Linked DNA regions of Homo sapiens. The protein of the gene in region 1 purifies or fractionates together with the protein of each later gene. This does not show direct contact. Each region holds a gene or a part of one and is shown in the gene's direction. Other genes may lie near its edges.

What was found. Proteins that work in one complex are often made in the same cells at the same time.
Region 2: the proteins of RABEPK (region 1) and TESK1 purify together in Homo sapiens (affinity purification with mass spectrometry; 3 studies listed by BioGRID and IntAct, with this or other methods). This does not show direct contact.

What each region holds. Positions count from the first base shown.
Region 1 is NC_000009.12:125,210,529-125,217,551, forward strand, and holds part of RABEPK (rab9 effector protein with kelch motifs), read left to right. Parts: intron 1-2,841; coding exon 2,842-2,994; intron 2,995-7,023. UniProt on the Homo sapiens protein: Rab9 effector required for endosome to trans-Golgi network (TGN) transport.
Region 2 is NC_000009.12:35,601,015-35,608,261, forward strand, and holds the start of TESK1 (dual specificity testis-specific protein kinase 1), read left to right. Parts: upstream 1-4,247; 5' UTR 4,248-4,605; coding exon 4,606-4,824; intron 4,825-4,969; coding exon 4,970-5,091; intron 5,092-5,222; coding exon 5,223-5,271; intron 5,272-5,822; coding exon 5,823-5,969; intron 5,970-6,312; coding exon 6,313-6,395; intron 6,396-6,567; coding exon 6,568-6,658; intron 6,659-6,913; coding exon 6,914-6,997; intron 6,998-7,079; exon of another isoform or gene 7,080-7,145; coding exon 7,146-7,235; intron 7,236-7,247. UniProt on the Homo sapiens protein: Dual specificity protein kinase activity catalyzing autophosphorylation and phosphorylation of exogenous substrates on both serine/threonine and tyrosine residues.

The sequences.
Region 1 (7,023 bases):
CCAACATGGTGAAACCCTGTCTCTACTAAAAATACAAAAAAATTAGCTGGGCATGATGGCTTGTGCCCGTAGTCCCAGCTGAGGCAGGAGAATTGCTTGCATCTGGGAGGCAGAGGTTGCAGTGAGCCAAGATTATGCCACTGCACTCCAGTCTGGCAACAGAGCAAGACTCCGTCTCAAAAAAAAAAAAAAAAGAAAATAAAAGAAACGATTATTCTTTGCTCTACACAAGGGCAGAAGTTGAACAATGGTGACCCACTTACGTATTTTGTTAGGTCCATGTAACATTTCCCTATTGTTTTAATCTTAAGTTTTGTTTTTTTTTTTGAAATGGAGTCTCAAACTGTCACCCAGGCTGGAGTGCAGAGGCACGATCTTGGCTCACTGCAACCTCTGCCTCCTGGGTTAAAGTGATTCTCCTGGGCCGGGCATGGTGGCTCACCATGCTGTAATCCCAGCACTTTGGGAGGCCGAGGTGGGCGGATCACGAGGTCAGGAGATTGAGACCATCCTGGCTAACACGGTGAAAACCCATCTCTACTAAAAATAAAAAAAAAAATTAGCCAGGCGTGGTGGCGGGCGCCTGTAGTCCCAGCTACTCGGGAGGCTGAGGCAGGAGAATGGCATGAACCCGGGAGGCAGAGCTTGCAGTGAGCCGAGATCGCGCCACTGCACTCCAGCCTGGGTGATAGGGCGAGACGCCATCTCAAAAAAAAAAGAAAGTGATTCTCCTGCCTCATACTCCCAAGTAGCTGGAACTACAGGCACGTGCCACCATGCCCCGCTAATTTTTGTATTTTTAGTAGAGATGGGTTTTCACCATGTTGGCCAGGAGGGTCTTGAACTCCTAACCTCAAGTGATCCACCCACCTCGGCCTCCCCAAGTGCTGGGATTACATGCGTGAGCCACCACGCCCAGCATAATCTTAAATTGTTTACCAACCAATTATGCAGAAATCTACATATAAAAATTTAAATGGTTTGGCTTCTCTTGATAATGTTGGAAAATCTAATGTCAGTAGGCCTCCCTGTCTACATGGCAACAATTATTTGGAACTGAGCTGCCACCTATCAAGAGGGCTCTTATTCTCCAGTTTGCCACAGTTTTTGTTACTCCCACCTAGGCATTTGAATTTCTACTCCCTGCACTAAAAAAATCAAAGGTAGGCTGGACGAGGTGTAATCCCCCAGCACCTTGGGAGGCCAAGGCGGGTGGGTCACTTGAGGTCAGGAGTTTGAGGCCAGCCCGGCCAATATGGTGAAACCCCCATCTCTACTAAAAATACAAAAATTAGCCAGGCATAGTAGCTCACACTTTTAATCCCAGCTACTTGGGAGGCTGAGGCAGGAGAATTGCTTGAACCTGGGAGGCAGAGGTTGCAGTGAGCCGAGATCGCGCCAGTGCGCTCCAGCCTGGGCAACAGAGCAAGACTCCATCTCAAAAAAAAAAAAAATTCAAAGGTAAATTAAATCACTTCTAGCCCTCAATTACATTAAATTAGTTCAACTTACATCTTTATTGCAACCTATTAATAGCTTTGTGACCCTGGCTACACCATCTCAACCATCTGGACCTCAGTGCTCTATAAAGTAGGGATAATAACTTGCTTCAGATCTAACAAGATAATGCCTGTAAAGGTCTTGTGTAATTGGTTAACCAAGTAAAATAATTGTTAATAATAAAGGTTAGGGTTTTTTGTTTGTTTGTTTGTTTTTTGAGACGGAGTCTTACTGTGTCACCCAGGCTGGAGCGCAATCTCAGCTCACTGCAAGCTCCACCTCCCGGGTTAATGCCATTCTCCTGCCTCAGCCTCCCAAGCAGCTGGGACTACAGGCGCCTGCCATCGCGCCCAGCTAATTTTTTGTATTTTTAGTAGAGACAGGGTTTCACCATGTTAGCCAGGATGGTCTTGATCTCCTGACCTCATGATCCGCCCACCTCGGCCTCCCAAAGTGCTGGGATTACAGGCATGAGCCACAGCGCCTGACCAAGGTTAGGTATTACTATTCTGTGAACTTGTCTTAGCCAGCCATCATTTATTTGCAAGTAACAGAATCTCACTTAAACCAGAGGAAAAAGGGGGAATTTATTTAGTCAGATACAGGCGTGTTTCTTTCTTTCTTTCTTTTTTTTTTTTTTGAGACAGAGTGTTGCTGTGTTCCCAGACTGGAGTACAGTGGCACAATCTTGGCTTGCTGCAACCTCCGCTTGGTTTACCAAGTAAAATAACCCTGGGTTCAAGCGAGTCCCCTACCTCAGCCTCCCGAGTAGCTGGGACTACAGGCACGTGCCACTATGCTTGGCTAATTTTTTGTATTTTAGTAGAGATGAGGTTTCACCATGTTGGCCAGGATGGATTCGATCTCCTGACCTCGTGATCCGCCCACCTGGGCCTCCCAAAGTGCTCGGATTACAGGCGTGAGCCACTGCACCTGGCCAATACAGGCGTGTTTCAAAGAATTCAAGGACAGGAAGTAGAGCCCAGGATCATGAGAAAGTGGAAGCACTTGATCTGGTTGGCTCATTCTGGTTTCATTGGCTACCTTCAACCCAATCAGCTAAAGCTACAAAGTCAAAGCATAGTACAAACATGTCATCTGGGATCTATCCTTGTGGTTGACAAAGTGGGGACAGTTTCCATAGAACGGGGTCTATGGACTAGGCAGACAGCCCCCTAAGTATCTATTATAGAATTTTCTGGAGGTTGACAACATGCCCTTTAAGTGATTCAGTGGTTTTCATTTATGTTTATGGCCCTCTTCTCATGACCCTCCTCAAGTGTGCCAACCAATATAATAATTGGCAGCCCCAATCTAGGAACTGGGTGAAATGTTTTCCAGGAAAACACCAGTGGGACTTAGATACCTGCAAGGGCCTCTTGCCCCGGTATGAACATGCTAGCTTCATTCCCTCCTGCACACCTGACCGTATCTGGGTATTTGGAGGTGCCAACCAATCAGGAAATCGAAATTGTCTACAAGTCCTGAATCCTGGTAAGTAGCCAAAGGTTATTTTATTTACGTACATACAAATAAACTTTCATGCACACACACACACATATATATAAATCCAATTATAATTCCAGTACATTTGGATTATACTAATTACCATTTAACTTTGCTGACATAGAAAATAGGAATTTTAACTTGTAGCATAATCTGAAAACAACAGAATAAAAACAATTGTTGGTAACACATACAATTTTTAACTTGTTAAATGTCAAAGCTGGAAGGGACTTCAGAGAACAGCTATATCAAGTGGGCTACTCAGGTTTATCAAGGGCAAAGTGACTTTCCTAAAGTCACAAGAGGCCGGGCATGGTGGCCCATGCCTGTAATCCCAGTACTTTGGGAGGCTGAAGAAGGCAGATCACTTGAGGTCAGGAGTTTGAGATTGGCCTGGCCAGCATGGTAAAACCCCCATCTCTATTAAAAATAGAAAAATTAGCTGGGTGTAGTGGTGGGCGCCTATAATCCCAGCTACTCAAGAGGCTGAGGCAGGAGAATCGCTTGAACCCGGGAGGCGGAGATTGCAGTGAGCTGGGATCATGCCACTGCACTCCAGCCTGGGCGACAGAGTGAGACTCTGTCTCAAAAAAAAAAGAAAAAGAAAAAAAAATTTTTTTAAAAATAAAGTCACAAGAGAGTCAGTGACTGAGCCAGGCTTAGAACCCAAGTCACCTAGATTAGTAGTCCTCCAGTAAAGGCGATTGTGCCCCCGGGGGACATTTGGCCATATCTGGAAACATTTTGGGTTATCACAACTGGGGGTAGCGTGGGCTACTGGCTTCTAGGGGGTAGAGGCCAGATATGCTGTATATATATCCTGTCGTGCCTAAGACAGCCATCACAGGGAAGAATTGTCTGGTCTAAAATGTCAGTAGTGCCAAAGTTAAGAAACACTGACCTGGATCCTCCTAGTATGTTTCTTTTAGCCAAAAGTACAAAGTTCCTAACTTGTCTCACTGGCAAGACATTTTGTTTGTTCGTTTTGTTTGTTTGTTTTTGTTTTTCATATCTTGCTGTTTCCATCACTGGCAGTTTTATTATAGAGGAAGCAGTTTGGGAACGTCGCTACTGAGAGGAGGTTGCTAAACCACCTGTGGGGAAGTGGACTTGTCTTTTTGCCTTTTGTTTGTTTGTTTTTGTTTTTCTCTTTACAAATATTATTTATGTTCATTGTAAAATATTTGAAAAGTACAAATAAGTGGAAAAAGTCATCCACAATCCATTATTATATTAAGGCTATTACCAATTTTCTGTCTTTTTTTTTTTTTTTGTGACGGAGTTTCACTCTTGTTGCACAGGCTGGAGTGCAGTGGTGTGATCTCGGCTCACCACAACCTCTGCCTCCCGGGTTCAAGTGATTCTCCTGCCTCAGCCTCCCAAGTAGCTGGGATTACAGGCATGCGCCACCATGCCTGGCTAATTTTGTATTTTTAGCAGAGATGGGGTTTCTCCATGTTAGCCAGGCTGGTCTCAAATTCTTGATCTCAGGTGATCCGCCCACCTCAGCCTCCCAAAATGCTGGGATTACAGGCATCAGCCAATGTGACCGGCCCAGCTTTCTGTCTTTTTCCTGTCTTTTCTCTGTTTTTACAAGCCTGAGATCATACTATATTTACACATTCATAACTTTTTCCTTTTAATTTCATAATCCCAGGAGAAATAGGTGGGTTTTTTTTTTTTGGCTTTAGCAAAAATAATTGATTTGTTATTAATAACAATGCTTTGTTAATATAATATCATTTGTTTGTTTTTTTTGGGTTTTTTTATTGTTGGTAACTTTTTTTTTTTTCGAGGCAGGGTCTCACTCTGTTGCCCAGGCTGGGATGCAGTGGTATGATCACAGCTCACTGCAGCCTCGACCACCCAGGCTCAGGTGAACCTCCTACCTCAGCCTCCCAGGTAGCTGGGACTACAGGCGCTTGCCACCATGCCTAGCTAATTTTTTTGTATTTTTTGTAGAGACAGAGTTTTGCCATGTTGCCCAAGGTGGTCTCAAACTCCTGGGCTCAAGCAATTTTCCTGCCTCGGCCTCCTGAAGTGTTGGGATTACAGACATGAGCCACTGCACCTGGCCAACATCATTTTTAATGGCTGTATCATACTCCATTATATATAAAATACTCCATAATATCATAACTTCTCCATTTATGAACATTTAGTTCTTTTCAGGTTTTTACCATTATAATTAACAAAGCAGTGAACATCTTCATTCAGAAGTCATAGACTGTATTTCAAATTATTTTCTTAGGGTTCCTGCCAAGAAATAAAAAGGCTAGGTAAAATACTGTGAACCTTTTCAAGGTTTTGATACATACTACCAAATTGCTCTCCAGAAAGATTTTTCCGGTTTATCCTCTCTCCAACTGTGTTTAACAGTGTTTCTTTCATTACTGACCAGCACTGAATTTATCAGTTTTAAACATTGCTAATTTGATAGGCAAAAAAACTTGTACATAGTTTAAATATGCATTTTGGGCCGGTGCGGTGGCTCACACCTGTAATCCCAGCACTTTGGGAGGCTGAGGTGTACAGATCACCTGAGGTCAGGAGTTCCAGAGCAGCCTGGCCAACATGGTGAAACCCTGTCACTACTAAAAATACAAAAATTAGCCAGGCATGGTGGTGCATGCCTGTAGTCCCAGCTGCTGAGGAGGGCGAGGCAGGAGGATCGCTTGAACCCTGGAGGCAGAGGTTGCAATGTGCCGAGATCATGCCACAGCCTGAGCAATGAGTGAGACTCTCTCTCAAAAAAGCATTTTTTGACCTGGACATTTTTCACATGTCAGCCAACTCTTGCTCAGTTCCCTCTATCAACAATATATTTGGGGTGTTGCCCACCTACTACATTTGTTGAGTATTGCCCGATAAAAAAATTAAAATTAAAAAAAAAAACTATTGTACAATAGTTGGTCAGAGTTCAGGAACTAGGACCAAATTTTCTTATATGTCAAGTATTTAAATTCCTTCAGCACATTTAGACAGTATGTTATCTTTTAATTTGATTTATTTGTTTGGGTATTTATTTCCTGTCTTCCCTCCTCTTCCATGCCCTCCCTCTGTGGAACATAAGCGCTTTGAAGGGAAGAGTTTGTTTATTGTTGAATACTCAGGGTACAGAACACTGTCCGAAATAAAGTAGACACGGCCGGGCATGGTGGCTCATGCCTATAATCCCAACACTTTGGGAGGACGAGGAGGGCGGATCAAAAGGTCAGGAGTTCCAGACCAGCCTGGCCAACATACTGAAAGCCCGTCTCTACTAAAAATACAAAAGAAAAAATTAGCTGGGCTTGGTGGCAGGTGCCTGTGGTCCCAGCTACTTGGGAGGCTGAGGCAGGAGAATCGCTTGAACCTGGGAGGTGGAGGTTGCAGTGAGCCGAGATCGCGCCACTGCACTCCAGCCTGGGTGACAGAGTGAGACACCGTCTCAAAAAAAAAAAAAAAAGAAGAAAGTGATAGAGTAGACACTTGGCAGACCATTTGGCTAATTGTGAAGCCAATTTGCTTGGAGGACTAGCAGTATAATATGGTGCTTAAGGGCACAGATGAGGGTCTCTGTTTTGCTATGCACTAACTATGACCTTGGACTAGTGATTTAACCTCTCTCTGCCTCTGTTTTCTGTCACATTGGATAGTAATAGTTTCTACCTTGTTAATTTGTCAAGGATTTAAATAAACTCAGTATCTGGCACATAATTAATGCTCAGTAATTGTTGTGGTAGTTGATGTAGTTAAGGTTTGGCAAAGGGAAATCAGTTCTGGAACCCTGGCCTTTTGATTTTCAACAATGGTATCCATTGAAATAAAATAAAGTGAGAATTTGGAAAGCTGTCAAAGAGGGTGATTTTATTTTATTTATTTATTTATTTATTTTTATTTTTGAGACAGTGTCTCACTGTGTTGCCAAGGCTGGAGTGCAGTGGCGCAATCTCAGCTCACTGCATCCTCCACCTCTTGGGTTCAAATGATTCTCCAGCCTCAGCCTCTCGAGTAGCTGGGATTACAGGCACATGC
Region 2 (7,247 bases), about 90 Mb from region 1:
GGCTCATGTCTGTAATCCCAGCACTTTGGGAGGCCAAGGCAGGAGGATCACTTGAGGCCAGGAGTTTGAGACCAGCCTGGGCAAAACATGGTGAGACCCTGTCTCTACAAAAAAATTAAAAATTAGCCAGGTGTGATGGCACGTGCTTGTAGTCCCAGTTACTTGGGAGGCTGAGATGAGAGAATCACTTGAGCCCGGGAGGTCAAGGTTGCAGTGAGCTTTGTGCCACTGCACTCCAGCCTGAAAAAGAGTGAGACCCGTCTCAAAAAGAAAAAAAAGATAACTAGCAATAATTGAGTATATCACATATGTGTTAAATTATGAGTTCATAATGGTACTTTAAAAAAAACCTCATCGGTCAACTTTGGAAGATGCTGGGGAACCAACTCATTACTTTGAAAGCTGGTAAAATAAGTGAGAAACAATCAAGTATTTATTCTGCCTTTCCTAGGAAATGTATCTCTGTGTAACAAATAGTTAATGTGGAAAAGTTTCTCCTTATAGAATTATTCTACCTAATACTTCTATAGGAATTCATTCAAAGAAGGAATGATAATATTATTTTCTAACTTTTTATTTATTTTGAGACAGGGTCTTGCTATGATGCCCAGGCTGGACTCGAACTCCTGGGCTCAAGCAACCCTCTCGGCTCAACTTCCCATGTAGTTGGGACTATAGTCGCGTGCCACCATGCCCAGCTTTAACTCCTCTATTAATGAACCTAGACCAGTGGTTCTTATTCAGGGTCAATTTTGTCCCCCAGAGGACAAATGGCAATGTCTAGACACATTTTTTTATTGTTACAGTCAGGAGGAGGTGCTACTGGCATCCATTAGGTAGAGGCCAGAGATGCTGCTAAGCATCCTACAATACACAGGACAGCCCCTACAATAAAGAATTTTCCAGCCCAAAATGTCAATAGTGCCACGGTTGAGAAACAAATATCAGTTATTAAAATCACAAAAAGACCACCACTGTATACCTCCTGTATACCTCCTGATAGAAGTGCTAAAACCATCTACAAATTAGTTTTGCCAAAAGAAATCTAAATTTGATTAAGTTACCAATTTATATCAAATACAGAGGATGGAGGAACATGCTAAATTACCACAGAAATCAAGACTCTAAGAAACTCTACAGGACAAATGAACCAGTTTTAAAAAATAGTAAGAAAAAAGATGGAGAATAAGCATAGATCTGCAAAGACTTAAGAAACATATGGCTGGGTGTGGTGGCTCACACCTATAATCCCAGCACTTTGGGAGGCCAAGGCGAATGGAATGCTTGAGCCCAGGAGTTGAGACCAGCCTGGGCAACGTGGCAAACCCCATCTCTACAAAAATACAAAAATTAGACAGGTGTGGTGGTACCCACACCTCAGTAGTCCCAGCCACTCAGAAGGCTGAGGCAGGATTGCTTGAGCCTCGGGGGTGGAGGTTGCTGTGAGCCGAGATCAACCCACTGCACTCCATCCTGGGTGATAGAGCCAGACCCTGTCTCACAAAAAGAGAGACAGACAGACAGACATATCACCTGCAAAGTACAGACCTAATTTAGATTTTGATTCAAATAAACAATTTTTAAAAATCAAACGTAAGACAGTGAGGGAAATGTAAACAACTGGATGCTTGATGACATGAAGGAACTATTGTTTTTTTTTGGTGTGACAATACTGTGATTTGGTTTTAAAGAAGAATCCTTATCATTTAGAGATAACGTACTGAAACATTTACAGGATGAAATGATATGTCAGAAATATACACAAATATGGAGTGGGGAAGAGGGCACGGGTATAGATGAAACAAGATTGGCCATGAATTGCTCATTGGAGAATCACTGACATAGAAGGGTAAATGAAAGTAGGTACTTTCACCTGGGCCAGGTCAAATATGGCAACAGTACAACTGAGGCAAAGGAAAGCCAATTTTGCACTATGGGTTTCCAACAAAATGGTCTTACTAATCCAAGGTAAATAAACATTCATTTTTCTATTCTGTGTGTGTGTGTTAAGACATTTTCCACCATACAAACAACAACAAAAGGTTTTTTTGAGACAGAGTCCCGCTCTTGTCGCCTAGACAGGAGTGTAATGGCGCGATCTTGGCTCACTGCAACCTCCGCCTCCCGGGTTCAAGCGATTCACCTGCCTCAGATTCCAGAGTAGCTGGAATTACAGGCGCTCGCCACATCAGGCTAATTTTTTTGTATTTTTAGTAGAGACGGGGTTTCACTACGTTGGCCAGGCTGGTCTCATCCTTTCCTGATTGAACCACAGTCACAGCCTCCTTCCTAATCAGTCTCCCGGCCTCCATACAACCACCGCAATCATCTTACAAAAAATAGGCACCTGGCTCTTTGGCTTGGCATTACCATCACCAACTACTACAGTAATTCTCAAACGTGATAAAGGGCCAGAACCCAGTGTCGGTTAAAAGATCTATGATATTAAACAAAATGAGGCATAAATTCCTAGTGTTTACAGATGTCATACAATAAAAAGCAAATTCACAAATTAGTTGTAGATGTTAACATTAATGTGATGAATGAGCGTGTGCTGAAGACCAAACGCCTCCAGAAAAAAGAACAGGATGCACGTGCCCCGTGCAATTCTGTGAGGTTGGCCTGCCTCCACCGGCTGTGGAAGGATTGCGAATGTCTCCCATTCCTCTCGCTCCAAACTTGTGCAATACCTTCCCTTGTACAGCGCACCAAGACAGCATCTGGCCTTCTCTTGACTCTAAGGCATCATGTATCATTTATGACCGTCTTTATTCTTTTCTCAGTAGCCCTCGACAAGCGAGTAGTATTTCTTGGCTCCAAGTCTCATAAACGTGTAACCAGACTCCATTGGAAGACGGTAACCCCACGCGATACGGACTGTGCTTGTATTAATTCTCTTTTAAGCTTACTACAGAAATATCAATACAGTACTTGAGAATTCCTGCAGGACTCAGCCTCGCTTCCTCGAGGAGCTCTCAGCCTGCCTCCGCACTCGAGACGGCAGCTTTCTCTCCCTCCGCCCACCGTTCCGCCGCTAGGTGGCAGGCGGCTCAACGACGCCCTTTTAAACCGTTTGCCCCGGAGTGGACCGCCGGGATCGCGTGTCACCACCCAACCCTAGCGATGATTGGCTATTTCGCCGAGGCCGGAGGAGGAACCAGCGGCAGAACCGGAAGCGTCTGGTACGGCGAGTGCACGGAGTCCTGAGACTGCGTGCGCACCCAGGCACCGCGCCGACTTAAAGAGGCCAGTTGCAGCCCCTCCTCCGGCCTTAGGGGGCAGACCGTGTTCCTACGTGGAGGGCGGAACCCTCACACTGAGGAGGGCTGGGTCACACTGAGGGGAGGAGTCACCTTGAGAGGAGGGGTCACAATGACTAGTGGATTTCCTCGGAGGTGGGGTCTCACTGCGTGGGAGGAACACAGAGCAAGGGGGTGCAGCACTGAGGGGTTCTGACACACTGACGGTGGCAGTGCCACACTGGGGAAAAGTGCCCCCGAAAGGGAGGTGTCTCACTGAGGAAGGGAGGGGTCTCCGAGGGACAGCGTTCTTTGAGGGGGGTGGGATCTTGCGGAAGGACGGGCTTCCCTGCAGGTGGAGGCTTCTCTCTTAGAGTCTTTTGGGCAAAGTAGTAAGAGGGAGGTCCCGGCTGGGTGGTCACAGGGCGGAGGACCTGGACTCTCTTCTTTATTGGGAGGCGGCAGGATGAAGTGAGGAGGAGTCGGGGCTAAGCTGGGTATGGGCCGGCCAAAGGCTTCCTATAGCCCCGGGGTATCACAACCTCCCGTGAAGGTAGAAGGTGTTAGGGAGGCCAGAGGTTCAAGGTGTCGGAGTCGAAGAGACCTGGGAAATGGGCAGGCTGGGCCGGGGCGCAGGCCAGGAAGGTGGACAGGTTGCTAGGCTACCTCTGATTGCGGCTGGGCCTGAGGGGCCTACCTTTCTGCCCCGTTGGTCCCTGGAGCCCAGGAATCCGGCAGGTTTCTGAGCCCGACCCTCAACGGACAGTAACCCAGGGAGGAGAGGGGACTCCCTGGGCAGCTAAGCTTCGCATGCGCACCATCAGCCCTTAATTCCCTCCCGTTATTCAAGCTCAGGCCGGAGCTTATTTGACCCGGGCGGCCCAGGGCATCGCGGCCGGAAAGCGGGGAGGCGGGGGTGCGCACCTGAGGGGGCGTGGCCGCTGCCGGGAGGCCGGGCTGGAAGGAGTTAAGCGGAGGCCCGGCCCAGCCCCGCCCCCGGCAGGCCGCGGAGCCTGATCCCCGGCGGCTAAGCGGAGCAGCCGCCGCCCGCCCGCCCGCCCGCCTCCGCCCGCGGCAAGCCAGCCCGCCGGCGCCCCGGAGCGCTGCCGCCACCGTCACCGCCACCGCCCGGTCCAGGCCCAAGCCCAGGCCCTGCGCGGAGCGGAGCGGCGCGGCGTCCACCCGGGCCCAGCCAGCCGGCGCGGCGGGGGCGGGTCCAGGATCTTCGGCGGATCTTCCATTCTCAGGGCGGGAGCCGGAGTCCGGGCGCCCGGGATCGGGCTGGGCCCGCGCCCATGGCAAGCGCGGCCTGCCCGGGCCCTGGGGACCCTGCCATGTGAGGCAGGCCCGGGCTGGGGGCCCGGCCATGGCCGGGGAACGGCCCCCACTGCGGGGCCCTGGGCCCGGGCCTGGAGAGGTGCCGGGGGAGGGGCCCCCGGGGCCGGGGGGCACGGGCGGAGGCCCGGGCCGGGGCCGCCCCTCCTCCTACCGGGCTCTCCGCAGCGCCGTGTCTAGCCTGGCGCGTGTGGACGATTTTCACTGCGCGGAGAAGATCGGGGCCGGCTTCTTCTCTGAGGTCTACAAGGTAGGACCGGCCGAGAGGGCAGAGGGGCGGGACCGAGCCTTCAACCAGAGGCTGAAACTAGGGGGCCGGGAGTGCGGGGAAGAGGGTCCAGACTCCGGCGACCCGCCCGACCTGCCCGGCCCTCGCCGGCTGCTCCTGCCCCCAGGTTCGGCACCGACAGTCAGGGCAAGTCATGGTGCTGAAGATGAACAAGCTCCCCAGTAACCGGGGCAACACACTACGGGAAGTGCAGCTGATGAACCGGCTCAGGCACCCCAACATCCTAAGGTGAGCGGCCCCAGTCTCTGGGCAGCTTGCTGGGCGGGAGAGAAAGGGAAAGATCCCGCGGGAAAAGTGGAACTGAGGAGGAGCTGAGGCCTTTAATAGCCTATCCTTCTATCTTCCCCATCCTCTTGCAGGTTCATGGGAGTCTGTGTGCACCAGGGACAGCTGCACGCTCTTACAGAGGTGAGGATAGGCCAGGAAGGAGGGATCCCCACCCCCCTTCACCCCCAAGGATAAAGGGAGTCAACAGGCCTGGTGGATCTACGGAGGACTAGTGAGAGGCAACAGGATCTCCTCTCAGGGGAGGCTTTCCTGAACTTTCCTTTAGGCAAACCACATATAAAAGGCCTCAACTGGTCTTATTCTCTGTATCCCCTAGAACAGTGCTGTCCAATAGAATTTTCTTCAGTGACGGAAATGTTCTCTATCTGTGCTGTCCAATACAGTAGCCACTAGCCACATGTGGTTAAATTTAAATTATTTTCATTGTTTAGATTATTTTTTGTGGGTCAACTTGATTAAAAAATTTTTTAAATTATTTAAATTGTTGCACATGGCTAATGGCTATTGAGTTGAACGGGGCAATCCTAGAACATGGATGGGGGGGGTCCTACAGCACAGTCTTACCCCTATGACCTCTGTGATCCTCGGGAGTGTCCCCTAGCGTGTAAGTGGGGGACCTAGAATACAGACTGAAGTCTGACATCTATTCCCATTCTCCTCCTATGCACCAGTATATGAATGGGGGGACATTGGAACAGCTGCTCAGCTCCCCTGAACCCCTGTCCTGGCCGGTCAGGCTCCACCTGGCCCTGGACATTGCCCGAGGCCTGCGGTACCTGCACTCCAAAGGTGTATTTCACCGCGACCTCACATCCAAGGTAGGCTAGCAGGGTGGGTGGAGACATGAAAGAGGGTTTGAGGCTATTAGGTTGTAACTGGCCTGTGGATGTTGGAATATGGATAACAGATATATTAGGATGTTGGAGTGGCAAGGCATTGGAGAATATTGGGGGACCAGGGTGAGGGGAGTGCTCGGAGGGACTGAGTAGCACCCTGTGTTTGGAGTGTTGGATGATGTTGCAATATTGAAGTGCCTTGAAAAACTGGGAGAGCAGAGAGGGTTGGAGTTATGCTGGAGTGACAGGGCTTTGGGTTATACATTGGGAGGCCAGACAGCAGAAGGTGATGAGTGCGTGGGGATACTATGTGTGTGTGTGTCAGAACTGTCTAGTCCGACGGGAAGATCGAGGCTTCACCGCTGTCGTGGGTGACTTCGGGCTGGCCGAAAAGATTCCTGTGTATAGGTGAGATGAATGTCCCTGTTCCCCCCAAATCTCCCAGAGTGCCCCTATCTGATGTCCCCAGAGCCCCAGGGATGTTTCCCTTGGGGAACGGAGGGAGTTCACCTCATCCCCTTTTGCCTGGGGGGGATGCCTGAATAGGATGCTTCTGACCACTCTGCCCCTGCCCCTGCAGGGAGGGGGCAAGGAAGGAGCCATTGGCCGTGGTGGGCTCCCCATACTGGATGGCTCCAGAGGTGTTACGGGGTGAGCTGTATGATGAGAAGGTGAGACATCAACCCTTCAGATCCCCAAGGCCTTCCGAGACCCTTGAGGTATTCTCATAAAGCCCCATCCATCCCCAAAACAACCCTACCAGATCTTCAGGAGTCCCCAAGATCCCTTTGCCCCTCACAGGCACCCTTCTAACACATGAAAACTGTCAAGATCCCCCACCCTCAACCAAATTCTGCTATATTCTGTCAAAATTCTGAAATGAAAACTGTTAATTCTTCCCCGACACTATTATCTCTGACCCCCAGGCTGATGTCTTTGCCTTCGGGATTGTCCTCTGTGAGCTCATCGCCCGAGTACCTGCAGACCCTGACTACCTACCACGCACTGAGGTGAATGTTTCTAGGTTTGCAAAGAAAGAATTCCAGACTAGCTGGCTCATAACCAAGGAGGATTCCCTAGAGGTTGAGGTTCTGACTGGGGAGCAGAAGGAGAACCCAAGAAAAGCTGACTTGGAGGTCCCTCCTTCTGTCCCCACAGGACTTTGGCCTGGATGTGCCTGCTTTCCGAACTCTGGTGGGGGATGACTGCCCACTGCCTTTCTTGCTCCTGGCCATCCACTGCTGCAACGTAAGAGCCTCA